Linked DNA regions of Homo sapiens. The protein of the gene in region 4 interacts with the protein of the main gene of each other region in a biochemical or structural test. Each region holds a gene or a part of one and is shown on either strand. Other genes may lie near its edges. The genes, in order: TRIM29, SLC2A1, CNTNAP2, SNTG2, TNRC6A, TTC24 and RPS6KA3.

Evidence for each region.
Region 1: the proteins of SNTG2 (region 4) and TRIM29 interact in a test that uses a peptide from one of them, tested with the Homo sapiens proteins (one large-scale study listed by IntAct).
Region 2: the proteins of SNTG2 (region 4) and SLC2A1 interact in a test that uses a peptide from one of them, tested with the Homo sapiens proteins (one large-scale study listed by IntAct).
Region 3: the proteins of SNTG2 (region 4) and CNTNAP2 interact in a test that uses a peptide from one of them, tested with the Homo sapiens proteins (one large-scale study listed by IntAct).
Region 5: the proteins of SNTG2 (region 4) and TNRC6A interact in a test that uses a peptide from one of them, tested with the Homo sapiens proteins (one large-scale study listed by IntAct).
Region 6: the proteins of SNTG2 (region 4) and TTC24 interact in a test that uses a peptide from one of them, tested with the Homo sapiens proteins (one large-scale study listed by IntAct).
Region 7: the proteins of SNTG2 (region 4) and RPS6KA3 interact in a test that uses a peptide from one of them, tested with the Homo sapiens proteins (one large-scale study listed by IntAct).

Annotation. Positions count from the first base shown.
Region 1 is NC_000011.10:120,113,900-120,118,014, reverse strand, and holds part of TRIM29 (tripartite motif-containing protein 29), read left to right. Parts: intron 1-954; coding exon of another isoform or gene 955-1,056; intron 1,057-2,600; coding exon 2,601-2,677; intron 2,678-4,115.
Region 2 is NC_000001.11:42,927,869-42,931,368, reverse strand, and holds part of SLC2A1 (solute carrier family 2, facilitated glucose transporter member 1), read left to right. Parts: intron 1-162; coding exon 163-323; intron 324-502; coding exon 503-743; intron 744-1,333; coding exon 1,334-1,496; intron 1,497-1,588; coding exon 1,589-1,776; intron 1,777-2,054; coding exon 2,055-2,159; intron 2,160-2,335; coding exon 2,336-2,437; intron 2,438-3,500. UniProt on the Homo sapiens protein: Facilitative glucose transporter, which is responsible for constitutive or basal glucose uptake. Has a very broad substrate specificity; can transport a wide range of aldoses including both pentoses and hexoses.
Region 3 is NC_000007.14:148,418,284-148,421,747, forward strand, and holds the end of CNTNAP2 (contactin-associated protein-like 2 precursor), read left to right. Parts: 3' UTR 1-2,715; downstream 2,716-3,464. UniProt on the Homo sapiens protein: Required for gap junction formation. Required, with CNTNAP1, for radial and longitudinal organization of myelinated axons.
Region 4 is NC_000002.12:1,236,991-1,241,105, forward strand, and holds part of SNTG2 (gamma-2-syntrophin), read left to right. Parts: intron 1-897; coding exon 898-1,027; intron 1,028-2,747; coding exon 2,748-2,786; intron 2,787-4,115. UniProt on the Homo sapiens protein: Adapter protein that binds to and probably organizes the subcellular localization of a variety of proteins. May link various receptors to the actin cytoskeleton and the dystrophin glycoprotein complex.
Region 5 is NC_000016.10:24,735,864-24,739,978, forward strand, and holds part of TNRC6A (trinucleotide repeat-containing gene 6A protein), read left to right. Parts: intron 1-4,115.
Region 6 is NC_000001.11:156,578,236-156,582,522, reverse strand, and holds the start of TTC24 (tetratricopeptide repeat protein 24), read right to left. Parts: upstream 2,801-4,287; 5' UTR 2,765-2,800; intron 1,163-2,764; 5' UTR 1,159-1,162; coding exon 453-1,158; intron 293-452; coding exon 89-292; intron 1-88.
Region 7 is NC_000023.11:20,151,295-20,155,409, reverse strand, and holds part of RPS6KA3 (ribosomal protein S6 kinase alpha-3), read left to right. Parts: coding exon 1-12; 3' UTR 13-4,041; coding exon of another isoform or gene 4,042-4,073; 3' UTR 4,074-4,115. UniProt on the Homo sapiens protein: Serine/threonine-protein kinase that acts downstream of ERK (MAPK1/ERK2 and MAPK3/ERK1) signaling and mediates mitogenic and stress-induced activation of the transcription factors CREB1, ETV1/ER81 and NR4A1/NUR77, regulates translation through RPS6 and EIF4B phosphorylation, and mediates cellular proliferation, survival, and differentiation by modulating mTOR signaling and repressing pro-apoptotic function of BAD and DAPK1.

The DNA.
Region 1 (4,115 bases), on a different chromosome or scaffold from region 4:
TTGTTTCACCGCTCTCTAGTCTCTAACTACACGCTGCAACAACAGCTCTCAGTGGTCAGGACCGGGGGACATGCCATACCCCCTGCACTCGACCTCTCTGATCCTCAGGATGCTGCTTCTCCTACTGCAGAGTTTATTTAACTCCCAGCGTTGGCTGGCTCTAGGGTCCTGTGGCCATGGGGCACCTGCCAGCATCCTGCAGATCCAATCCTGCAGGCGCCCCTTTGGGAAAGGCAGGACCAGACGACCCTAAGTCCCCCCAAGGCTGATCCTCTTTTCCTGCACTCTGTCCCCCGCCTGCCTGTGGTGCTCCCAGCACTCTGACAAGGCAGAGTGATTGACGCCTCCTGTCCCCTGGGGTTGGGGGCATCCTGAGGGGGCAGGCTTGAACCAGACTCTGGCTATGGGCCCCAGACCCTCATGTATCTCCTGAAAGATCCCAGGGACAGCTCTAATGGCTGTGGTGGGAGTAACCCTGTCTCTCTTCTGGCACCCCAAACATCTGGCCTGGAAGTCAAGATCAGCACATTGGGTGGGCTCAGGAGAGGGAAAGGGGCTATGCAGGGCAGAGAGACCCCTGAACAGTGGTCTCTGAGGCCTCATCACTCAGTTGTCCCTTCCGGCCCAGGGTCCTATACTATACCCAGGACAGGGATTCTTGGAGCTGCCGGCAAGAGGGAGGAGACAGGACTATGGGTGGAGGGTCCCAGCCTGCAGGAGCCCCGGGCATGTCTTAGCTCTGATCCGGGCCTGGGGAGCTCCAGGACTTGCCTTGGCCTGTTTGGCTTCTAGCAGGCGCCTTTCTGCTCTCTGCTCAAGCCTGGCCCACAGAGCACCTGGCAGGGGAGGTGGCCGCTCTCAGGTGTGATTCAGAGCAGCCCCCAGAATGAGGTGTGGGTCCTTTTGGCCCCTCTGGGACCAGCGCTGTGCCACTAATGCCTCTCTCTCTCCCAGCAGGCACTGGGAAAACCCCTTATCAGTTCACCACCTTGGGACAGGCCACTGCAGAGTTTTCCAAACCACTGGGTCGCAGTGGGCTGTCTAAAAATAATCCCGGTATCTGCCCATTTTCCATCCCTCCCCTTTTCTCTCCCACAGCGGGGCAGGTGGGACATGGGGGGCTCTCTGCCACTTCTAGGGTGTGCCGGTCCCTTCTCCCCAGAGCTCCCTGGAGAGGGATGCATGCCCCACCTGCCACCCCAGCATACTCTCTATCTGGACTTCTGCCTGCTGCACAAGGCGGGTGTCTTGGGCCACCCTGACCCCACCCCTGTTTCCATTCTCCCCTCTCTCATGGCTGGCATGGGATTTTCTTTCTGGGAACTGAGAGATGAGGCCTGAATTACCCCTCTTAATCTCCACTCAGGATCCCTGGAACCCCCCTTTCCAAGGCTGCTCCCACCCTCAGATGCAGGAAGAGACCCAGGTTCTTTGCTCTGTCTCCTCCCCCTCCTCCTTGCTCAGTGCCAACCTGGGAAGGGCCAACCCAACTGGCAGCCTGGCGGTGCTCATCATGAGCCTGACCTGCTCATCCTCGCTTAGAGCAGGGCAGGAGAGGGGCTTTCCCGAGACAGACCGCATGCAGCCTCTCACTGGACAGAGATCTGGCCCAGGACAGACCCTGCTTATTTCTTGAGGGCCTCAGCATCCAGGTCATGGCCTGTGTCTTCCCAGGCGTCCCTGCAGGCTGATGGCTGACACTGAGAGTGCCTTCACTGTGCTGTGAACCAGAGCTCCTTTCAGGTCTGTCTGGGCTGAGGCGCAGGGAGTCAAGGCGGCCCCGTCTTAGACTAGCATCTTTGCAACCAAGCTCAGAGAGCGCACCTGCTCCAGGCCTCTTGGGCTTGCCATCCTAACCCTGGGTGGCGGCCACAATGACAGATTCCTGCACCTCTCTAGGCCCTAGTCTCTGGCTAGTGAAACAGGGGAGGGGCCACAAAGCCAGGGAGAAAAAAACATGAATTTGGGTTTTGGATTTCCGGCACTCTGTCCCCCGCCTGCCTGCGGTGCTCCCCAGCACCTGGTTTGCTGCTTATGAGCTGTGCAACTCAGGCAGACTGCTGAGCTCATAGATACGGGGCCAGGCTCAGTGAGGAGACATCTACAAAGTCCCTTCCACAGTGCTTGGCACAAGTGGGGCTCCGTGAATGGGAAGCATCGTCCAAACAGCACAGGGGAGTCCAAGTGAGCGCCTCCTGCCGGGAAACTCTGGCAGGCCATGCTTATGCGTGGCGCTCCTGGGCTCTGGGAAGGGGAGGGCCCGTGGTGTAAACCTCCGGGGTGGGTGAGTGGAAATCCCTGCAGAGCAGTGTGATGCTGCGCTGGATGTGGGGGCAACACTCCCCTGCTGCCTGGTCCAGCCCACCTGGCCGGCTCCTCCTCCTTCTGTCTGCTTTGCTGCCTCCTCCCTTTGGCCAGCCTCCCCAGGATTTTCGGTTGCGGCACCCTGGCTGCTGCACGCGTGTTCAGACGGCTGCATTTGGTAATGGGCTGGATGATGCTTGGTGGTCACTTTGGAGAAGGCAGCTGTGCTGCTCTGGGCCCGGGCACCCCTGACCACCAGCGCTGCTCCCTTTGACCTGAATCTCTTGTCTTCCCAGGCTATCCCTCCCTCATGCGGAGCCAAAGCCCCAAGGCCCAGCCCCAGACTTGGAAATCTGGCAAGCAGACTATGCTGGTAAGGGAAGTGCTGCCGGGAGGGCCTGGGCACATCCAGAGACCTGGGCACTGAAGGGGGCTCCCTGGAGGCAATCGGTTCCAGGGCCTGTGGGAGGACTTCTCTGGGCCATGGGGTGGAGGAGAAGGAGGCAGCAGTGGCCTGAATACCTGTACACAGCAGAGGGTAGTAGAGACCCAGGGCTAATGGGCAGGGGACTAGCTAAGCATACACTCTCTGGACCTCAGTTTTCTGATCTATAAAATGGGCAGCCTTGATTTTTTTATTTGGCAAATGCTTGTTGGATGCCTATGCTAGTGGAATGGCAGCTTGGGTTCTGCCAGCTCTGGGATTGTAAAACAGCCCAGTGGGAGGACAGGCCTCCTCCTAGAGATGGGTCCCACCTCCCTGGGGGCAGTTCTCCAGTTCTGACAGCATAGAGGCCATTGGGGTGATAATGTGGGGGTGGGAGAGACTGGAAAGTCGGGAATAGATATATTTAGGGTCAATATCTAATGACCCGAGGCCAGGCATATCAGAAGAGCAGCATGACAGGGAAGCATGGCTTTGGGGTCCAGGCCACCTGCTGACGGTGGGGTCCTGGATGAATTAGATACCCTCTCTGAGACTCTTCCTTGCTTTTTATTATGTGGGGACTGAGATGATCCCCAGTGCCCGTTAGATCTGACATATCTGACCCTGACTGAGACCTCAGTGATCGGGGACTGTAGTTCACATGCAGAGCCCCCATGTGCCTGAATGCCTTGCTCCTGAAGGTCCATTCTAGGCCCTGCTACAGGAGTCGGCCACTGCCGTGGCATGTGGATGGCATCAGGAGCTCTGCTGGAACCAGGGCCGGAGCCCTTGTTTCTTGCTGTCCTTGCAATTGGAGGTCAGAGCAGGAGAGGTGATTTGCCCTGGACCACAAAGAATGGCTGGGGTTGGTTTAATTGGAGAGGATCTTTAATTGCTGGGGATGGGAGCTAAGTGATCGTGTATGTAATTTGGAGCTGGACTCAGGGGCATTGCAACAGCAGGACTGCAGAAAGCAGATATGGGGAGAAAAAAGAAGGTTTCTGTTCTAGACTCAGTCCTTCCCCTCCCTACTACATACTTTTCCACCCTCTCAGAGCCTGGGGCCCTGAAGAGAAGGCTCATCAGCACTTTGAGGCCCCTGGCAGAGCAAGGTTTTGGTGTCCAGCAGGCACCCAGCACTGGGAGAGTGGAGACAGGCGCTGGGCTGCAGAGAAGCTGAGCTGGGAATCAATTTCCCTGGGGGCTGGCCCCAGCTGTCTCATTGACTTGCTGTGTGACTTTGCATGAGGAAAAATGATTCCTTTGTGCCTCAGTTTTCCCATCCATAATTAGGATGATTTTGCAGCTCTTCCACCTGCTGTATGTGCTGTGACCTCAAGCCAGGGAGGGGATGGGAGGGTGAAGGTAGCATTTTGCCCTGATG
Region 2 (3,500 bases), on a different chromosome or scaffold from region 4:
TGAGGCCCACAAAAATAGAGGGACTTGGCTCAAGAACATGCAGTGAATCTGTGGCAGAGCCAGGCCCTGGCCCTCTCTTAGGGAGGGGTGCAAGGGGAAAGGAAAAGGAAGACTGGGTCCTGGCCCCTGGCTTGCTCACCCAGGCTGCATCTCCCCCTGCAGGTGATCGAGGAGTTCTACAACCAGACATGGGTCCACCGCTATGGGGAGAGCATCCTGCCCACCACGCTCACCACGCTCTGGTCCCTCTCAGTGGCCATCTTTTCTGTTGGGGGCATGATTGGCTCCTTCTCTGTGGGCCTTTTCGTTAACCGCTTTGGCCGGTAAGTAGGAGAGGTCCTGGCACTGCCCTTGGAGGGCCCATGCCCTCCTGCCCAGGGAGTCCCAGATGGGGTGGGAGGTAGGGGAGACTTATCTGCCTGTTCCAGGGTATTACCTCTGACCCAGCCCCTCGGAGCCCAAGGAATGTGGGCACTGGCCTGACCTGTGACCCCGTCCCCAGGCGGAATTCAATGCTGATGATGAACCTGCTGGCCTTCGTGTCCGCCGTGCTCATGGGCTTCTCGAAACTGGGCAAGTCCTTTGAGATGCTGATCCTGGGCCGCTTCATCATCGGTGTGTACTGCGGCCTGACCACAGGCTTCGTGCCCATGTATGTGGGTGAAGTGTCACCCACAGCCCTTCGTGGGGCCCTGGGCACCCTGCACCAGCTGGGCATCGTCGTCGGCATCCTCATCGCCCAGGTAAGCTGGGGCAGGATCTACCTGCCTGGCACGGCCCCTGCCCACAGCTTCAGTGGCTCTCGGATCTGTGCCCAGCAGGGCAGAGTTTCTCTTCCGCCCAGCCCCCACAGCCTTGCAGAGGACAACTATGGTACACAGGTCCAGAGAACACAGCACCATGGCCTCCCAGTTGACAGCAAGATGACTTGACTCTTCTCAGTCCCTTTCTTCTCACTCTAGGCTTCCAACCACAGGGCCCGCCTTCCCCCAACATGCCGCAGGCTGTTATGCACAGTACCCTCTCTCCAGGAGGCTTCCCCTTCCCTGTCCCCAAAACCCTCTTGTGGCAGAGTAGCAGCCCCCATTCTCTGTGCTGGACACATCTGTGGCCTTGTCATTTGTCCTCCCAGCAACACTGTGGGGTAGGTCCTACTTTTCCCATGTGACCGATGAGGAAACTGAGAAACAGGGCTCATGCTAGTGGCAGAGCCTCTAGAACTGGGGCCCTTCCCTGAAGCAGCAGCTGACACAAAGTAGGGAAGGCCACTCTGGCAGGACGGGGTGGGAAAGGGGGTCAGGGCAGAGGCGCTCACGGCCCCTGCTTCCCCCAGGTGTTCGGCCTGGACTCCATCATGGGCAACAAGGACCTGTGGCCCCTGCTGCTGAGCATCATCTTCATCCCGGCCCTGCTGCAGTGCATCGTGCTGCCCTTCTGCCCCGAGAGTCCCCGCTTCCTGCTCATCAACCGCAACGAGGAGAACCGGGCCAAGAGTGGTACGGGCATGGCCCTGCCCTCCTCCCCACTCCCTGAGCCCTGGCCTTCTTCCCACTCTGAGCCACCCTCACCTTCCCTCCGGTCCCCCCAGTGCTAAAGAAGCTGCGCGGGACAGCTGACGTGACCCATGACCTGCAGGAGATGAAGGAAGAGAGTCGGCAGATGATGCGGGAGAAGAAGGTCACCATCCTGGAGCTGTTCCGCTCCCCCGCCTACCGCCAGCCCATCCTCATCGCTGTGGTGCTGCAGCTGTCCCAGCAGCTGTCTGGCATCAACGCTGTGAGTGCCCCCACCCACCCTTCCTGTGCCCCAGCCAAGCCCTCTGGTCAAGTGTGCATGGTGAACAAGTCCCAAACTTGAAACAACAGATACGCCTCTGCCGAAGAAGTTTCCCTTTAGACCCCAAGCCCGTAAGGTCACTGCAGTGCAGTGTCCCTTCTGCCTGAGTATTTGTCCCCTTCATTCTTTACTCATCCTGGGTCCCACATCCACTGCTACAGAGGCAGGGAAGGGCCACAATGTCCAGGTAGGCCCCAACAGTTTCTCTTGTCTGGCAGGTCTTCTATTACTCCACGAGCATCTTCGAGAAGGCGGGGGTGCAGCAGCCTGTGTATGCCACCATTGGCTCCGGTATCGTCAACACGGCCTTCACTGTCGTGTCGGTGAGTCTTTGCTTACTGGCCCCCCCAGCCAAACCCCAGGGAGGAGGCAGTGCCATCTTCCCCACTGGTCTTTGCAGTGCCCTGTGACTTTCTCAGCTCTTGAGGCAAGGCCTCTGGGTGGGTGGGTTCAGAAGGGCACTAGGCAGGGGTGGCACTGACACTGTCTCTGCCCACAGCTGTTTGTGGTGGAGCGAGCAGGCCGGCGGACCCTGCACCTCATAGGCCTCGCTGGCATGGCGGGTTGTGCCATACTCATGACCATCGCGCTAGCACTGCTGGTGAGTTGCTAGGTTCTGGAGAGTGAGGGATGCGGGAGAGTTTGCCTGGGCTTCATATCCCAAAATGCCTGTCTCAGCCCCAGGCTGGCAGGCCTTTTGGTGGCTGCATTCTCCCTGGCTGTGGGTCTGACTTTCTGGCTCCTGAAGTTGTCTCCTTCCAAACCACACACATCCTCTCTTGAACTTGCTCCTCCCTGCTTGATGGATTCTCAGCGCAGCACCTCTGGTCCCAGACCCCAAACTCTCACCTCCTTAAGGAATTGCTTTGCCTAATATTAACCCTTTCCAATCTTCATCTGTAGCCTCAATTCATCTTCACAGCAACCCCGGGAAGTAGTGCTGTCCTCCCCATAGAGGCGCAGAAACATGCCTTGCCTCATTCAGTTCACACGACTGGAGGTGTAGTTCAGTTCTTCCCATTTTATGGGGGAGGAAGCTTAAGTCCCAGTGAGGTTAGTAACTTGTCAGATAAAGGATGAAGCCAGGAATCAACCTCAGTCCCAGGCCTGTGACTGTGACCGCTGTGCTAACCCTGTGCCTGGCACTCACACACAGGCACTCGTTTATTTAGCCTCTGGGCAAGGAAAGCACCATGACTGTCATTTTACAGCTCAACCTGGGCTTGGAAAGTTTGGTGGTTGCCGAAAGGCCAGACAGGCAGCAAGTGGAAAGCCCATAAATTTTCTACCCTGGCCTCCTCAAGAATGGTTATATGCAGAACCGTATGCTTAGCGCTTACTCTGTGCCAGCCTGAGCTGGGCACCTCACACGCCTTAGAACCTGAATCCACCCCACCCCCAGGAATGTTCTGCATCCTGCCACAGGCGGACTGTGCTGCAGGCACAGACAGGGGACCATGGGGCCTCTTAGCACCGTCCACATGCACACCACATTACCACTCCCAGCGGGTGGACTCAACACTTGCAGCCACCCTGCAGGACTTAAATCATTTTGTTCGGATGAGGAAACTTAGGCCCAATGCTGGATACACAACAAATCCAGGACCATCCCCAGGCTTCCTGCCTTCTCGCATAGCTCTGCTCTGGCCTCTGTAGCTTCTGTT
Region 3 (3,464 bases), on a different chromosome or scaffold from region 4:
CCTCCATAACCATGACATTCCCGCCCAAGCTCTCAGTGCCTAATCCTGCTTTGTCATTCACATCTCACAAAATCTTGACATCTTACATTCCAATACATTATCAAGCAAGCACAAGTATGCTGGTAGTAGCCTCTTTAAATAATATGTATAGACAACAACAACGACAAAAAATAGACTGTTTTAAAGTTTCAGGGAAAGTTGGTGGCTGATTTAAAGTTGTGCAGGAAACATCTTCTGTGTATGAAGCAAATGTCGATGTTTTGAAAAAAGCTAGGAGATGACTTTGAATGAATGCAAGGTTAGTGAGATCCTAAGCTCTCAAAATAGCATATTCCCTAGAGCTCAAGAAAGCTGGTCCAGGAGGTTGAAAAAGCTATTTTGTTGTTAAATTATTTTCTGGCCCTTCTTAATATTTAAAAATGTATTTCCCCTTGTGGCTTTCAACCACCTGCTCAAAAAAAGAGACTTGTTACATGAAAGTTTTCATTAAAGAGCTGAAAACAAGAATTTAGAGAGCCATTCCTAGAAAATGTCCTACTGCCCTGCATTTGACAAACAAGCATCCTTTACTAACAAGAGCAGGAATTCAGAGGCACAAGAAAAAGCATTGGCATGAGCCAAAGAGTCTGTCTTAATGTTACTTTTGAAAATCTGCTGAGCGGCCACCATATGCAGGCTGAGAGCTGGGCACAGGCGAAGCCATTGGAAGCACTTCAGGAACAAGCACACAGCTGTGGGACTTGAACATGCAAGTGTTCAGGTTGTGTCAAGAAGCTTTTCTTTCCTTCTATGATGGAATCTGTTCTTTTCTATCCTACTTTTTTCTCTCTTCCTCTCCTCACCACATTATACCCTGCTCTTACGCAGTAAACGTTTTAATGGCCCGTTTATGTCTCATGCCTCCAAACAACACTGAATTTGAAACCCCCCATTTTTTCTTTTCACCACCCTGTTGAGCAATTTTCCCAAAAAAAGGGCAGCAATTATTAAATTGAATTCAAGTAAGCCAGCCAAAGATAGGTCCTAAATTGCTAGTCCCAGTAGAACCACCTGATCCTAAACCAGTGCGAAACAAACAGTAACAATGTCCCCAGCTGACTTCAGCTAAGAACCAATGGCTCCTACCCCCGCCCCGCTTTTTTTTGTTGTTTTTTGTTTTGTTTTGAGACGGAGTCTTGCTCTGTCCCCCAGGCTGGAGTGCACTGGCGCAATCTCGGGCTCACTGCAACCTCCTCCTCCTCCCACATTGAGGCGATTCTCCTGCCTCAGCCTCCCAAGTAGCTGGGATTACAGGCACCCGCCATCACACCCAGCTAATTTTTTTTTTTTTTTGTATTATTAGTAGAAGCCAGGTTTCACCATGTTGGCCAGGGTGGTCTCGAACTCCTGACCTCAAGTGATCCGTCCACCTCGGCCTTGCAAATTGCTGGGATTACAGGTGTGAGCCACCGTGCCGAGCCAGCCCCATTTTTTAAATGATGTTTTGGTTAAGAGTGGACCATGAGAATTAGCTGACAGCATCCCCTTTCTCTCTCCCTGCCTTGGTGGGACCCTCCCTGTGTGACCTTGGTCAAGTCCTCGAACTTTTGTCCCGTATTTAAGATGGAGCTGTTTTACCTACTTCATAAGACAGTTGCGAGGTGCCATTGATTCTTGACTGCAAAATACCTTGAAACCCTTATATAAAGACTGAAGTCAACGGAGCCTAGTGAAAGACTTACTTTGTGGCTTGTGGTTGAAAGTCACATCAAAAGACAAATGTGGCCACGTTCAGGAATTGGAGACTTACTGGCATGGCTCTACAGCTGCTCAGTTATTAATCATGCAGACTAACCTGTCAACACTGGGAGATGCAACATAGCAAAAGGACAGAGAAATTAGAATTTTTTGTGCAGAAAGCCCTAAATTCCCACCTGAATGTAACTTACAGCTCCCTTACCTACTCTCACACATGCCCTCAAACATGCTAGATTGGCTTATACATAGGCCAACACAAAATACAAACGTGACGTGTTCATGTAGCCTAGTGGCTATATGCCTATTCTCCATGTACCCTGCATGGTAGTGCTGCAAACTTTAAAGTACATTTCTTTCACAGCAGTATTTTTTTTCATAAGTGGCATATAAATGTCATTCAATGAAATGGGGAAATCACGTTGAGAAGTTGGTCTGTCATCTCCCATTGAGCAAAGACTGGCAGGAGATAATAAAAATAAATATGGGCACACATGTATTAATATACAGCACGCATTTACAAGTTTATTTTCCAGATAAAATTGTGCTATAAGAACAGCTCTACCAAGACAGTCTGCACCATTTCCAAGTCTCAGTTAATTTACAGCAACTGCTGCTTTCGGAGATGGCTGTGAAAATATGGAAGTTCCTCTCAAGTAGGCCAAGAAACAGTTCTAGATTTTACTAAGTTTTATTTTGTCAGGTTTTTTAAATTTTTTCAGTGAGCGTGGTGACTGCAGAGGTTAGTGCTGTGAAAAGCTGGGCTAAATATTCTTTCTGTAAAGTCAAACAGGATTCCATCCCCTGTGAAATAACACAAAATTTCACTCTCTAAAAGCAACAGCATGTAAACTAGAATGAAAGAAGGAAATTATGTACGTATGCCTAATATTCTTTGTGAATGTCTTTCATTTAACTAAAATTATATTAGAAACCAGATTGATAAATAAAAAATTCAAAGTAGTTTTAATTATCCTAAAAGCGATTCTTCGTGTTTTGTACCACTTGTCTCTCTTAAGAGCAATTTTCAACCTTCAGCAAAAGTTAAGTTCCAAGCACTGAAATATAAGCCTACTGAGAATATCGTCTTTCCACAAGTTGTGGAGATATAGTCACTCCTAAAAGGTCTGATTTGGGTACGTCCATGGTTAACCTCCTACCACAAATAGCTCCCCGTTAAAAGAGGAGTTTTTCTTAAAGTGGCTTAGTAGACATTGACTTTGGTTAGTTTACACCCATCTTGATAAAATGTGGTTCGAGTTCAGTTATCTCCAGAATATATTCTGATCCTTATTTGGAATGAGGGAGTAACACTGGATAGTGGGCACATGGATCCAAGCCAGGGAACTAGACAGCAAGGACTCGGCATGCATCGGAGGTGCGAAGCTTCCTAAATGCACTCCGTGTGCTTTTAGAGCTAAGTTATTACTCTCACTTGCTAGTTGTTCTGCAGCGAGCAGCTCTATGCAAACCACCCCTGCAAACCAAGGAAGCTGAGAGGCCAAAGAAAGAGGCTGAGAATTCCAATTTCTCAGAAAGAAACATTTCATAGGGAATTACAAACAGAGGCCATGTCTCAGGCAGCCACTAGACAGATGATGAATGCCTGCACTGTTACCCCCCCATGCCCCCCACACCCTGGACCCAGGGCTTATCCACCATAGGGAAAGGGTCTACAGACTTAAGAAGGGATGTGTAAGACAATTGCTTAAGGGTAGGGTTTACAGTAA
Region 4 (4,115 bases):
GGAGTGCAGTGGTGTGATCTCGGCTCACTGCAACCTCTGCCTCCTGGGTTCAGGAGATTCTCCTGCCGTAGCCTTCCGAGTAGCTGGAGCTACAGGTGTGTGCCACCATGCCCGGCTAATTTTTGTATTTTTCGTAGAGATGGGACTTCACCATGTTGGCCAGGCTGATTTCGAACTCCTGACCTCAAGTGATCCACCTACCTCAGTCTTCCAACGTCCTGTGATTATAGGCGTGAGCCACTGCGCCCGGCCAATATGCACTATTTTCTTAAGAAAAAGTCTATAAAAGTGTACATGACATTTCTCTTTTGCAAATAGGCATATGTAAAGTATGTTTTTAAAAAATATTGCATGACAGGGAAGAACTACTGAATTTGAGACGGTTGGTTGTTAATACTTTGCCATGATTGAGTTCTCAGCAAGTGGAGTGTCATGGAGCAGTGGAAGGGGACTATGTTCTCCCAAAGCTCCCCTGTCAATCAGAAGCACACAGGTGGTCCTAGAGAAGGGTGGATGCTGAGTGCAGAGGGTGCTGGGCTGCTCCAGCCTCACCCCATCAGGAGCTTTAAGTGCTCCATCCAAAGGGTCTTCGAAAGAATAACCAGTAAGAATCCTGCAGACAATAACTCCAGAATTTCAGGAGCACTGTTCTTTCCTTGACAAAGTGCTTTTCATGTTTCATCGAATTAGAAGTAGCTCCTGTTACCAAGGGAATTCGGGGTTTGGTCTTGGTCTCAGCGAGCCTGCTGACTGTACTGAGGCGCCTGAGGAAGTGGTGCAGTTGCCCCATGTCCTGGGTCCAGGGTAGAGCCCTGCTGAGCATCAGCCTCGAAACTCACGGAGGCAGGCCCGCTCCCGTCGCTGCGGGGCCTCCTGGACAGCTCTCTCCCTCCCCAGGTGGAATGCGTTCGAGGTGCTCGCCCTGGACGGAGTCAGCTCTGGGATCCTCCGGTTTTACACAGCCCAGGATGGCACCGACTGGCTGCGGGCGGTCTCAGCCAACATCAGGGAGCTGACACTTCAGAACGTGAGCACACGGTGTTTCTGAGTCTCTGCTGATGCTCATTCGTGCATGAAAAATAATGGAGACATCATGTTTCTGATGATTTATGATTAACCCGAAACAGAAAATCATGTACTTGTTTCAATGTGTCAAATCTATGTCTAAAAACATTAAAAATGAAGCCATCAGAATGTTTCCAAATCAAAGAGTAAGGCAATGTCTAACAGCTGAGAATTTCCCATCTGGTTTTGTCTTCCTCCTCCCCTCTGTCTGCCTCTGTCTCTCTCCCTCCCTTCCTCTCTCTTTCTCTCCACACACATATACAGAAATAGTTATATGTCATAATTTTATATTTTACCCAAATGCATTGATACAGTGTGACATTTTGAGTTGGGGAAACCTAATTGAGTTAAAAGTATAATTCTCCCAAACATTATGAAGATTTAGAAAAAGGCATAATTGAGCAAAAACATTACTTCTCAAATTTGTACTGCAGTCCCCCAGAAACGAAAAAGTATTCTGTCCCCTTAAGTGATGTTTGATATTAAAAGTCAACAGGATTTTAAAAATTAAAGAAATGAAAAGAGATGGGGTGGGAACGAAGACTTGATGACACGGGCGTTGCCTGGAGTGATGGGTGCCTGGACTCGGACATGGAGCCGTGGCCGCAGCCCTGGCAACTGTGGCAGGACTGGCCGTGCCTGGAGGCGGCCCTGGACCAGCCTTGCTGCCCTTGCTCCCTCTAAGCTGAGTTGCCCTGTAATTGCACTTCGATCCCTGCTCTGTTCCTTCGCAGCCTGGAGGCTGCAGAGGCTGGGTCCAGCTTGCAGACTGGCCAGGCGTGGCCCACCCTGCGGCCCTGCAGATGCACCCGCCCTGCCCCTGCCCTGCCCACCACCTCACGTCTCCCTTGCAACCTCCCTTCTTCCTGTGGCTGCAAAACAGAAGTTAACCTAACACTGGGGGAAGCAGCAATGTGTGACATTTCTCCTGTGAAGACCTCAGGGGCTTCCTTTCTGCAAGCAGAGAAGGAAGTACCAGGACCTTCCTAACATTGTAGTTTTCAAACGCAACACTTTAAATTCCAAAGTTATCTCAATAAATAGGGAAGAAAGGATGGTGCTTGACTTATATTTGCAGAAATGTTTGTGACGAGGAGCGCCCTTCAGTTCTGTCATTTCACAAATCAGCCCTCATAGGCAGGGCAGAGAAGTCAGACACCCCAATATTTCAGAACAGAAATGTGGACTCTGAGCTGCCTCCCGGCTGTGTGGCTGTGGGCTGTGGGAACATTATGATTCTGCACCTCCACTTCCTCGGTGAAATTTTGGAAAACAACATCTACCTCCATAGGTCATTGGGAGAACTAAATAAAAGAAAGAATATCAACTGTGATCACCGTAATTACCATCACAGTAATACTGACTCTCACAAGGTTATGTAGAGCAGAAATCATTTCCTCACTTTTCTCAGATATTGGAATTTAAGCACCTGCTCTTGAAGTGTAACTTCACTTACATAAATGCTGATATTTGAAAAAGAGGAATTGAAGCCTGCTAGTAAAGTTGTTTTCTACTGCTGCCATGTTTGTATTGACTCTGGCTAGGTCTTCAGATAGGAAATATGTCATTAAAGAGGCCTGTTTCCCAGGACAGAGCGTGGCTGATGACTTCCAGCTGTCACTCAGGTGAGCCATCCTGGTGTTGGTGGCTGTGGCCCTGACTCTTCTGCCTTCTCTCCACAGATGAAGATGGCGAACAAATGCTGCTCTCCTTCCGACCAGGTAGGGTTTGTATTTTCTGCTTCATGATGTAACACATCAGGTAGGGTTTGTATTTTCTGATTCATGATGTAACACATCTCGAAAAGCAGTCTCTGGTTTTTTGAAATTTGATTTGAAAATGTTGATAGGAAAACATTAGCACATTTCAGACTGCATTTGGTGGTCTCTGCCCTGCCTGTTAATTCTATAAAACTGCTCTTTCTGTGGGAATAGCATAGGTCATTCTGATCTCCTGTGTATAGATTATTTCTCTATTGGCAGTTATGTTTTGTAAAGAATCGTGATTTAAATGATGATTTAGATATGATTGTTTAAACTGAGAAGGGCTTTGAGATGACACACCTGTGTAATTTGAAATTTTAAGCATTATATTATTTTCTTAAATAAAATCCTTACTAGGAAAGCTTCATTCTCAGGAGGGCTTTGGCCCAGTGGGTGTTATTGCCAGTGGGTAGGATCCTGTCATCCCCAAATCCAGGCAGTTTGTTCACCTGGAGCCCAGAGCCCTTAACGTTGTCCTGGATTCAGGATAGCTACCTTTGTAGCCACCCTCAGGCCTGATTTTCTGCTCACTTCCCACGTCTATGAGTACTTAGGAAAACTCTATGGTAATCAAGCTGTTTCAATATCAGCCAAATCAGTTTTTAAGCCACTGTGTTATTCTTCTGTTTCCTTTATAATAAACTTATGATTTAACTTGTAATGTAAGGGAGTATGTTATTTATAGTTCATTCATTTTCTGGTTACATCTCTTAGGGGCGTAAGGAAGCATGCATCATAGCCTCAAGTTAAGAAAACTGAGAAAAACATGTTCGCTTTGCTTTAAATAGCGCACAAAAGACTTTAAATAGTGCTTAGCAAGAATATTTGAATTCACGATGGAGGACTTGAGAAGAGCAGGTCCTCTGCCTATGAAATATTTACTAAAACAATGGGAAAATAGGGCTGTGTTTTAAATTAAACCTCTCTAGTCAACATTTCTACATTAGAAAAGAAACACTAAGAATAAATGGTTCTTCTAACTTTTATCTCTTTTAATATTATTCTAAAATTACCATCAACTATTTTTGTTTACATAGATATTTTATGATTAATATTTCTATAAATTCTTCAAATTAATATAGGATTCATTTCATATTCTTATACATAAAATATCATTTCCCTACTATGTGTTTTTGAAACAGAAGTTCTGAAACTTTTCCACAAAGTACATATCTCTCTATGGTTCACACAGGAAACAGCCTTTATCAAGGCTGGTGGGACAGTGGGCCAAAGTTTTGACATGATCTCTATGAATAATTTACCATTTTGAAATTGCATCTTATTCAC
Region 5 (4,115 bases), on a different chromosome or scaffold from region 4:
TTTAAAATTTTAAAAAATTGGCCGGGCACAGTGGCTCATGCCTGTAATCCCAGCACTTTGGGAGGCCGAGGTGGGCAGATCACTGGAGGTCAGGAGTTCAACACCAGCCTGACCAACATGGTGAAACCCCATCTTTACTAAAAATACCAAAATTAGCCTGGTGTGGTGGCACATGCCTGTAATCCCAGCTACTTGTGAGGGTGAGGGAGGAGAATCGCTTGAACCTGGGAGGCGAGGGTTGCAGTGAGCCGAAATTGCGCCATTGCACTCCAGCCTAGCCTGGGCACAAAAGCAAAACTCTGTCTCAAATAAATAATCAATCATTCTAACCTTAAGCAAAATTGGAAAAATGTTGCAACTAATACCTGTATCTCTTTACCTAGTTTTAGTGATTATTAATATTTTGCCACATTTGTTCTATCGTGACATTGCACACCAAAGTATGGCAGTAGGTATCTCACAGAATAAGGGCATTCTACCTGACAGCAATCAAATGATCACCCACAGGAAGTTTAACTTTACAATTCTGTCTGGTCCCTATTCAGATTTTCCCAATTTTCTCAAAATTTTTTTTAAAGTTGTATTTGTTCTTTCACTCAATTGCTGTATCCTGGGTTGCATTTAGTTGTGTCTGAAGTTTCTCTTACATTAGGAGCATTTTCCTGCCCTTTTCTGCTTCTCTCTTGACAATGACATTTTGAAATAGTCCAGTCTAGTTGTTTTTGCAGACTGAAATTTGCATTTTTTGGGTCTTGTCTGTATGATTAGGTTCAGGTTGACCCTTTTTGGCAGGAGTATCCCATAGGTGATGATGTGTTTGTCTTCAGTATTCCCTCCCCACAGCATTTTGAAGTAAATTAACCGAAAGGTTATCCAATATTCTTACTTCTACACTGACTTGGTGTTTCTTTCATTTTAGGAAATGCCAAACAATTGGTTTAAACCGAGATGTAATTTTAAATATTTGAGGTTACAGTAATTACAGGTCTTTGTATTTAAATCGATCAGCCATAATGATTACTGCTTTTATGAAGATTTATGCCAAAGGTAGCTCCCTTACTGTGGGACATAAAAGTTGCTTGTTTTCAGCTTTGACCAGTGATGAACTGATAACCCTGGTAGGAAAATGAAACATTGGGGCTGGGCTTGTAATACGCTTTCTTAAAAGAATGCCCCATTGAAATTAGAGTGGCACGGTGCCACCAGACCAAGGGTTCTCATCCCGATGCCACAGAGGGACCACAGGTGTTATGAAGTGGTTTGCAAAATTGAATGTATGCCAAAATAAAATAATAAAAATAAAAATAAAACCCCACAACAAAAGCAGATATGGTCTTTAGTGCTCATTAGATCTCAAAGGGTCATTACTCCTCAAAGATTAAGAAACTGCTTCTTTATGAGGAGGTTGTCAGAGGAGCTGAATAGTATCAATAAGAGGAAGATGTTTGAGATTCAAAAGGAAGTAATATTCGACTAAGGCATAGCTTCTTTCCATCTTAAAAAAAAGCCACCCATGAAAATAAATATAGTTTAAATTTCCTATTTAAGATGTCTTATTTTAAAAATGATTTGCATACTCTGTGTGTTTGAGTTGGCTATGAAGGAGAAATCCTAGCATTTCCACTCTTGTAACTAGGGAAAAGCATTTTGAATTTTTAGCAGTAGTATATTATGTGATGATGACTCAGCTGACTTCCCGTTTCAAATGGAATGTTCAAAACAGATTGAAACCTGGTTGAAGAATTTTATACTTTGAACCTTACAAGATATTTTCTGCAAACAGTGACTGATTGGATTTTGTATAATAACAAACAAGATTAAGCCAACTCAGTTGTTTTGCTGTTCTTATTAGTGGTTTTCAGTCAGGGAGCACTTATTGAGCAGTTTGCTGCAATAATATTGAATATTTTTAGAGTTATGACGTCTGTGTTTTGTTGACTTTGGTCCCTTCTTTCTCCCATTCTTTTGAAGTTTCCCTAAAACATGTGTGCACAGACGGGAGAGAATGGTAGTTAAGTGTGTGCTGATTTTAAATGTCCTTTTAAATATCATTTATTCCTTGATAATTGACTGTATAACTGATGTAAGAGAAATATGTTTTATATGTTATTCCACTTGTGAATCTCTTTGCAATGTGAGGCATATAGTGAAAATCTTACAAAGATAGGGTCATAAAATGTGCATTCTCTACACTGCTGCAGGTTAATCGTCCTCGAGCCACGTTTCTGAGGCCTGTCAGTCACTATTTCTTAGAAACCTTTGTTGGCTCCTTCCCAGTGACTCTGGAATTAAAGCCCAGACTCTTGTTTTTTGCTCAGCTTATCAATTTAGCACTGTCCCTTCCACCTTTTGCCCTGTCCCTAACTCTTCCTTCTCTGAATGTACCTTTCAGTTTCTCTCAACTTTTAAATAACAGCTTTATTCAGATAAAATTCCCATATGATAAAATTCACCCTTTTAAAGTCCACAAAGTGTATGATTTAATGGTTTTTAGTATATTCACAGAGTTGTGCAATCAGCACCACTGTCTAATTCTAGAATTTTCACCCCTTCACCCAAAAACCCCATAATAGCAGCCACTCCCCATTTGTCCCTTCCACCCAGCCTCTGGCAACCACTAATCTACTTTCTATTATAACTCTATGGACTTACCTATTTTCGTTTAAGTGGAATCATACTATATGATACTTTTGTACGTGACTTGTCTTATTTAGTGTAGTGTTTTCAAGGTTCGTCCATCATGTCGCATATATCCTTTATTCCTTTTTATGGGCAAATAAATTTCATTGTATGGCTATTGCCCATTTTGTTTGTCCGTTCATCAGTTAATGGGCATTTGGGCTGTTCTAACTTTGGGGCTATTATGAATAATATTGCTATGAACATTCATGTACAAATGTTTGTGTGGACATATATTTTCAATTCTATTGGTTATATACCTAGGGGTGGAATTGCTGGGTTATATGGTAACTTTGTTTAACTTTTGTTTGTGTTGTTTTGTTTTGTTTTTGAGACGGACTCCCTCTGTTGCCCAGGCTGACGTTCAGTGGTGCAATCTCAGCTCACTGCAACCTCCCACCTTCCAGGCTCAAGCCATCCTCTCACCACTGCCTCCCAGGTAGCTGGGACTGCAGGTGCATGCCACCACGCCTGGCTAATTTTTTCTATATTTTGTAGAGATGGGGTTTCACTGTGTTGCTCAGGCTCTGTTTAACTTTTTGAGGAACTGCCCGACTGTTTGCAAAGCAGCTGCACAGTTCTACATTCTCATCAGCAATGTATGGAGGCACTAGGTTCTCCACATCCTTTCCATTGCCAGCATTTGTTAGGGTTCTTGTTTCTGATTTTAGCCATCCTAATAGATGTAAAGTGGTATCTCATTATGGTTTTGATTTACATTTTCCTAATGGCTAATGATGATTAGCATCTTTTCATGTCCTTATTGGCCATTCGTATATCTGATCTGAGAAGTGGCCATTCAGATTCTTCTCCCATCTTTAAATTAGGTGATATTTTTTGTCATTGAAAAAGGTCTTTATATAGCTTAGATACAAGTCCCTTATTAGATATATGATTTACAGGTATTTTTTCCTATTTTGTGGCTTTTCCTTTCACTTTTTTTTTTTTTTTTTTGAGACAGAGTCTTGCTCTGTCGCCCAGGCTGGAGTGCAGTGGCATGATCTCAGCTCACTGCAAACTCCACCTGCCAGGTTCAAGCGTTTCTCCTCCCTCAGCCTCCTGAGTAGCTGGGATTACAGGCACCCACTACTATGCCCAACTAATTTTTGTATTTTTAATAGAGACAGAATTTCACCATGTTGGCCAGGCCAGCCTTGAACTCCTGACCTCAAATGATCCACCCGCCTCTGCCTCCCAAAGTGCTAGGATTACAGGCATGAGCCACCGCATGCAGCCTCTTTTCACTTTCTTGATGAAGTCCCTTGAGCACAAAAATTTAAAATTTTGTAAATCTAGTTTACCAGTATTTTTTTCTGTTACTTGTGTTGTTGGCAACAAATCCAAGGTCACAAAGATTTACTTGTATTCTAATAATTTTATAGTTTTAGTTCTTAATGTTTAGTTCTGTAATTCATTTTGAGTTAAGTTTTGCATAT
Region 6 (4,287 bases), on a different chromosome or scaffold from region 4:
GGCCATCCACCCTTAAGCCTTGGGCCCCTTTTGGAACCCCTTCTTAGTGTCTTAGTCCCAGTCCCATTCCCCGGCCCCAGGCACCCACCGTGTAGGTCAGCAGCCTTCTGGTGAAACTCCCGAGCTTCCTGATAGTTGCCGAGGGCATTGTGGGCCATCCCGAGGTTTCTTAGCACTGTGGCCTGCTCTCCTGGCACCCAGCACAGGGGCAGGGCCTGCAGGAAGGCCTCCACGGCCAGCGGGAACAGCTGGAGCTGGGAGTAGCCCAGGCCTAGATCGTTATAGAGGTGCCCTAGAGGGAATAGCCAGGGTCACTGGTAGCCAGACCAGATATAAATGAGGCTGGTACAGCCCCTATCGACTCCTCCAGGGTTCCCCAAACCCAGCCCTCTGAGTATCATCAGGCTCTGTGTCTCCCCAGATCCCATGCCTTCCCTGCCCGAAGGTCTCACCCAGCAGTCGCCTCTCAGTGCTCCTCTCGGCAAGCCTCCGGCTTTTCTCCAGCACCTGCACAACTTCCCCCACCCGATGCCGCCCACTCTTCAGCATACATCCTGCCGCAGCCCCCAGTGCCAGGGCTGCGGCCCGCAGCTGTCTCTCTTGAGCATAGGCCTGGCTTGCTTCCTGCAGGCAGTGGGCTGCTAGCTCAGGCTGTCCCAGAGCCTGGTAGCAGGCTCCCATTTTTGCCCAGGCTTCTCCCTGGTCACCCTGTGGCTGGTAGTGGCCCAGGGCCCTGTGGTACCAGGCCAAAGCTTGAGGCAGCTCGCCGAGGGCATGGTAGGCCAAAGCCACATTGAAACATTGGTCGCCGTGTCGCCTGCCCTGTGCCTTCTCTTCAGGGTGGGCTCGCAGGAGTAGCTCAAGGCCTCTGGCTGGGTCCCCAGTCTCCACATAGGCAGCCCCCAGGTTGAAGGCGCAGGCCTGGAGCACAGGGGTATCCCTGGTTTGTGGGGCCTTGGAGGCCAGAAGGAAGGCCCTCTGGAAGTTGTTCAAGGCTTCATGGTTCTGGCCAGCCTGAAGGGCCCCATGGCCAGCCCTGGTGAGGGCTTGGATGCTGGCTTCTTGCCGCAGCCACTTTCTTTTCTTCTTTTTCTTATTGGAGCTTGAGGGCTCAGGTTCTGGCCTCCGGGGCACATCCTCAGGGTTGGGGGAAGACATAGGGCTGACAAAGGGGAACAGAGGGCTCAGTATGTCAGCCTTGGCTTCCTCTAGATAGCAGGACCCCCTTAGGGCAATTCAGCTCTACCCCTGCCCTAGCATGACCCTCAGGGTTTCAAGGATTGCTCTCTGATCTCTCACTTTGTTTCTTCTGTCCCATTGGGCACCATATCCACTCTCACTCTAACTTCCTGACTAATTCTTAGTCCTCCTTCAAGACTCAAGTCAAGTAACAGCTTACTTCAGAACGCACCTTCTTCTCAACCAACTGGGTACTCCTGTGGTCCCATAGCACTTGATGCCTATGTCTTTTATAGCATTTATCACACTGGGTCAGAGCTGATGACTTTATTGTCTTCCCCCCACTACTAGATTTGGAGCAACTTGCAGGGTCTGGCACACAGTAGATTCTCAATAAATGTTTATGAAAGGAGATGAAAAAGTTCTGGAGATGGATAGTGGTGTTAATTGCACAATAATGTGAGTGTACTTAATGCCACTGAACTGCACATTTTAAAATGGTTAAAATGGTAAATTGTATGTTATGTATATGTTACCACCATACGAGTGTTTTTGGATTGAACAAATAGGCCAGGTGCGATGGCTCACACCAGTAATCCCAGCATTTTGGGAGGCTGAGGTGGGCAGATCACGAGGTCAAGAGATAGAGACCAGCCTGGCCAACATGGTAAAACCCCGTCTCTACTAAAAATACAAAAATTAGCCGGGCGTGGTGGCGGGCGCCTGTAATCCCAGCTACTCGGGAGGCTGAGGCAGGAGAATTGCTTGAACCCGGGAGGTGGAGGTTGCAGTGAGCTGAGATCGCGCCATTGCACTCCAGCCTGGGTGACAGAGAAACTCTGTCTCAAAAAAAGCTGCAAATAAATAGATGAAGGAACCGCATATGCAGGGCCTCTCCTCCATAACTTCCTTCACACTGTGCCTCCACAGACACCCCCCTCACTCATCATCTAGGTACTCCTGCTATCTAATCTCAAGACGTAGTTCAGGTCAGTTCAACAAGCACTCAGTGAGCCCCTGCTATGTGCTAGGAACCACACTAGGCACTGGGGACCCTAGGGTGAGGAGGCTCCTGAATTGGCAAGGAGCGAACCTCCAGGAGAGAAGGATTTTCTGAAAAGGAGTGTGGTGTGGGACAGAACATGCATTTACTGCCCCTTCCCTAGCTCAAGGGGAAGCTCTCTCTCCATTTCTTCCGCTTTCTGTCTGCTGGCTGGTTCTAGGCCCCCAGCCTCCTGCTCTGGTCTCCAGAGCCCTCTTAAACCTGAATACAAGCATCTCAGCAGCTTGTATATCCTGTTTGTATTTTTCCCCTTGAAGGGCAAAAGCTTTTTATGAACTCTCCTCCCAGGAGATGGGAAAAAGAGTGGAAAAGACCCAGGCCCTGGGCTCTTGACCCCTCCCATTTTATCCTTTTTTTCCCCTTTTTTAGGAGGGGCAGGCAGAGGAAAAGCAGTCTCTTTTAAAAGAAATTCCCCCTGCTTCTAAGAACACCCAGAAATCCTGCCTTTTCAAGGCCTTCCACTCCAGGGCATTCCTGACCACCCCCATCCAGTGTGGGGATCCCCACTGCAGGACACCTTACCTCCTTGGGTCTTCTCCGCAGCTGGCTCTCTGGAATGGCCCCTCTGGCTTGGGTTACCTCCCAAGCTGTTAGCTCAAAGCCCTAGAGGTTACTAGACAACCAGGTACCACCCTCCAGTCGTAGGGAATTATTTGAGTGACAGCTCTGAAGCCGTATCTTAGTGCTAAACCTCGGTAGTGCTGCAGACACACCCCCTCAAGTCCCTCACTTCAAGAAATGAATCAAGGCATCAGAGGGGCGCTTACTAGTTACACCCTCAGAAATCATCTACTTCATCCCCTCATTTCACAGAGGAAGGGACCAAGCCTCAGACAGCAGATGTGACTTAACTAAGGTCACAGAGCAGTCACGTAGCTGGGGTTAGACTCTATGTTTTTTTTTGAGATGGAGTCTCACTCTATCACCCAGGCTGGAGTGCAGTGGCGCCATCTCGGCTCACTGCAACCGCTGCCTCCCGGGCTCAAGTGATCAAGTGATTCTCCTGCCTCAGCCTCCTGAGGAGCTGGGATTACAGGTGCACGCCACCACAACCAGCTCATTTTTGTATTTTTAGTAGAGAAGGGGTTTCACCATGTTGGCCAGGCTGGTCTCGAACTCCTGACCTCAAGTGATCTGGCTGCCTTGGCCTCCCAAAGTGCTAGGATTACAGGTGTGAGCCACTGCACCCCGTCTTTTTTTTTTTTTTTTTTTTTTGAGACGGAATCTTGCTGTGTTGCCTAGGCTGGAGTGCAGTGGTGCAATCTCAGCTCACTGCAACCTCTGCCTCCTGGGTTCAAGCCGTTCTCCTGCCTCAGCCTCCTGAGTAGCTGGGATTACAGGTGCCTGCCATCACACCTGGCTAATTTTTGTATTTTTGTATAGACTGGGTTTCCCCATGTTGGCCAGGCTGGTCTTGAACTCCTGACCTCAGGTGATCTGCCTGCCTCTGCCTCCCAAAGTGCTAGGATTACAGGCATGAGCCACCACGCCCAGCCAACTCTAGGTTTTTTGATTCAAGGTGAGTAGCCTAGGGTCCCTTCCACTACACTGTGTGATTGCAAGTTGTTTTTTTTGTTTGTGTGTTTGTTTTTGAGACAGAATCTTGCTCTGTCATCTAGGCTGAAGTGCCTAGATGATCACAGCTCACTGCAGCCTCTACCTCCTGGGCTCAAGCGATCTTCCCACCTCAGCCTCCCAAGTAGCTGGGACCACAGGCATGTGCCACCACACCTGGCTAATAATAATAATAATAATAATTATTATTATTATTATTATTATTATTATTATTATTATAGAGATGGGGTTTTGATATGTTGCCCAGGATGGTCTCAAACTCCTGAGCTCAAATGATTCTCCTGCCTTGGCTTCCCGAAGTGTTGGGATTACAGACTGCACCCGGCATGACCTGTGATAGCAAGCTTTAATGGGGCTTGAGCTGTCCTGGAAGTGAACCCTTTCTCTCTCTCTCTCTCTCTCTCTCACACGCACACGCACGCGCACACACACACACACACACACACACTCTCTCTCTCTCTCTCTCTCTC
Region 7 (4,115 bases), on a different chromosome or scaffold from region 4:
ACAGCCCTGTGAAGTGACCTCAGTGAGATATTTGGTACCATGGTGTAAGCTGATAGCACAAGTTCTGGCGACAGGTAGCACGTATCTGAGAGACACCTGCAAGCACACACTGTCCCAGCTGGTACCCATAATGCTGCTGTTCCTGCTGCTGCTCCTGCTTTCCTCTCTTCTCGCTTTAAATGATTGTTAGCAAGTTAGATTTTCCTGGAGCTTCGGAAGAAATGAAAATGGAAACATGATGAAGATATAGTCACTGAATCAATGAGAAAAATAATGAACATATGAATACCACCTAAAAATACACTGAATAAAGTACACCATATAGCATTATTTTTATAGGAAATATTTCATGTCCCTTAAATATTCTTTGTTAGTTATAGGGATGGACAGTTTATGTTAAGCACTTAGCTTAAACAATCCGTTTATATTAGCACTGTATCCCTTGTGCCATCCAACATTTTGTATGTTTTTGTAAACAGTTCATATACAGTACATTTCTGTACTGCTTTCTTTAATGTATACATGCCTTGTTTAACTTGGAATCTATTATTATTAATCAATTGACTATTAAATCTGGTTAAATAGTTCACCTGGATTAACAGTATTGTTGGACAGTCCTAAAAATGGCCAGATTGTGGAACAGCTGTTGAATGTAATACTTCCAAAATGTACATATCTTTCCCCACGTCTGTTTCACTGGTTCGTTCATTTGTTTGTTTCTTAAAGTCAGGTGCTCTGTCAGACTAACCTAGAGAGCTGTTATGGTAGAGAAAGTTATCATATGTGTGTGGCATGAAATCAAGAATACACCTATGAAGTTAGTCCATATACTTTGCAACTCCTTAGAGTACTTTTTTCCTTAATTAAGGAAGTAGTCCTTGCACTTCTAATCTTACATAGCATCCATACTTAGAATTTGGCATATCATCTGGGATTTTGCCAATATACGTCAAAGCCCTTTAAGAGTCATGGTAAGGAGATGGGTGAAGGAAAATTTAGCAACAGGTAATTGAAGTCCTATTGGATATTTCATGTTTAAATAGATATTCTATATTAAACACTAATTTAAATGTAATAAAGGCCAAAGGCCTCTGTATGAAATTGGATTTAAACTTTCTTATTTTAGGGAATAAAACATTATTGATCAAACAGTATCTGTTCTAACCTAAAATTATAGGTAGGGCAGGCTAAGTGAACAGCATTGAGTATTTTCTGAATCCCTCATGATAATTTATAGCCACATACTGCTTCCTTTGACTTCAGGAATGATCAGTTTTCATAATGGCCACTGGGCCTGCTTAGATTGCAGTATTCATTATCTGCATCTAATTTGGTAGTTTCCACAATCGTATTTGATGAAAGAAACTTCAGTCCCCATTATTACCTGTGTCTTTGCCAAGCTGCCTAGCATACATCAGTATGTAATGTAAAAGACATATGAGCAAGAAAAAAGTGATTTAACTTACCTCATCAAGAATGTGCCCCTACAGGCCGGGCGCAGTGGCTCACGCCTGTAATCCCAGCATTTTGGGAGGCCGAGGCAGGTGGATCACCTGAGGTCAGGAGTTTGAGACCAGCCTGGCCAACATGGTGAAACCCCGTCTCTACTAAAAAATACAAAAATTAGCTGGGCATGGTGGCGTGCACCTGTAATCCTAGCTACTCAGGAGGCTGAGGCAGGAGAATCGCTTGAACCTGGGAGGTGGTGGTTGCAGTGAGCCAAGATCACACCATTGCACTCCAGCCTGGGTGACAGAGTGAGACTCTGTCTCAAGAAGGAAAAAAAAAAAAAAGAATGTACTCATACAGATTTTTGTTAGTCATCATGTAATAAGCCATTTATATCAGAAACCTTTTTTCCTGCCACAGAAGCTTTAAATTTTCCCCTAAGAGTACAAAGCCAAGAGAGTGTGGTTTATCTAAATGTCCTGAAATCCACTTGTCATTCCTTAATTTCTCCTCTATGCAATTAAAGAGAAAGGGGAAATCTATAACATTTCTTTTGCCCAAGTGACACAAAAATGATTACTGCATAGAAATCAAATGTAAGTTTAGCTTCTAAATGAAATAATATATAGGAGGGATATCAGAATGTCTAGATAGAGAAAGTATTTTCAAATTCTTGAATATATGGATGCTATTAAAAGCTGCTTTCCATTGCCTGGAAAGAGAGCTTTTTTCCCTCCTCTATTCAGTGTTTCAAACTTTGGTCATCTCAAATTATTGTCACTTTTAAAATGTTAATGTCATTCTGAGCAGAAATAGATATATTTTCAGATTTTTTTACACTGATGCTACTCCGTAATTGCTTAGGAGTATTGTCCATCATAGTATTTTAGAACTAGAAGTAAACACATAAATCCTTATAAATTACCCAATCCAACTTTCTCATATTGCATGTAGAGAACCTGAGACACATATCAAAGTCTAGAATCCTTAACTTCTCCCCATTTTGTTTTTTTCCGCCTCATCACACCATGCTGCCTTTCCCTCATATGATCACCAACCAGTAGCTGAGTTCAAAAACTACATATTTCTTGGGCAGTCCTCTACTGGTATGTGATGCCAACTTTTATTTCTTTCGAAGATAATTGCCTTCTTTGCCTAGCCAAGCAGCCAATTTTATTGGAGAAAAGCAAGTTATATGTTCACAAAATGGAAGGCTTTCTACCTAAATTTATTTCATCTGTGGTCCTCTTATTCTCTTCCATTGCTTTTGACATACAGTGGAAAAACTTGGCCAACGATGTGCTCTAAATATAGTGCTTGTGTTGGGTTAACTTTTCCATTAATTTCTCAACATCAATTATTCAGGCCCCTACAGTTGTGGTATTGAGGCCCCTAAAGGCTTCTGCCTTTCACCAATTAGTGCTGCCAGTTACTGAGGCTTCTCCCAAAAGGTATCAGTCCAGTCTTAAAGATATTTCATTGTGAAAGAAGAAACTAAACTATCAGGCCTCTTTTACAAAATGAGAGATTGAATTTAAGCTTGTCAAGCACGTACTGGAAGGTATGAATTACACTACCATGTGTTTTGTATCTTCCCTTTCAAGTGATGATGTTAAATGAAGGTAAGTTTTTCATCCTTTTTTAATTTTTGTTTTTTATAAATCATTTCAGCTTTTTCTGGTTTATAGAGGTGTCTTATTTCTAATGCAACAGACCCCCAACTTTAACAGATTTGATATGGATGCATTTATTCACAAGCAACCCCAAAAGTCCAAAAATGTAATAATTTTGACAAGGCCCAAAGTTGAGATGCTATGAAGCTTGTGTGTGTGAAAAGTCAGTTATGATTGTCTGGAGAGAAGCTGTGGTGTGTATGCTGTAGAGTTTCCACATTTCACATGCAGTGTACTCCAAAAAGCGGGTTTGGGTCAACCATTTCCCATCTCTTTTTAAGAAGTGACTGCTGTTGGGGCCAGGGGACATCATGGGAGGTGGGGCTGTCCAGTTAGCTGTGCCCTGCACCTTCAGCCCAGGAAAGATTTGAACAGAGCAAAGGCTTCAAGAGAGGGCAGAATGTATTCGGCAGAAAAGGGACTCAGGTAAGCCCAGCCTGGGATGAGAGCAGAAAAGCATTCAAGATTTGCAGGCCTTGCTATGGATGCGCTTAATCACCATGGAGGCCAGCAATACCCATCTCAGCATGGCTTTGATATTCTCTACTTCCTGGCCTTTAAAAATGACCTATAATTTTTCAGTTTGCTTTACTATATTTTATAAAGAAAATTCTATCTTATGGTTGATTGAGCATTGAGACTTATGAAGGCATTAGGATAGATAGCTCAGGAATGTAAAGGTTCAGAAAAGGTCTGTTTTCTCAGATTAACAAATATGATGGATTCCATGGCTGACCTTGGTGCTTAAACCAGGAGGTTTCAATCTAGTCCTAGAGTTGTGTCCCTCTGAAAGGCCCAATGCCATGTAACTAACTTTAAACTGGATATATACTTTGAGCCTTACTTAATTCACAGATAAGTTGACTTAACTCAGTATTTTTATTTCAATTAATGAAAACAGTCCTCTTTTCAACCCCAGGTTGCTTACATTTTGCTGGTCTCCCCAAGTGACCATTGGTGGAGACCAATTAATGAAGGAATGAAATTCACTTT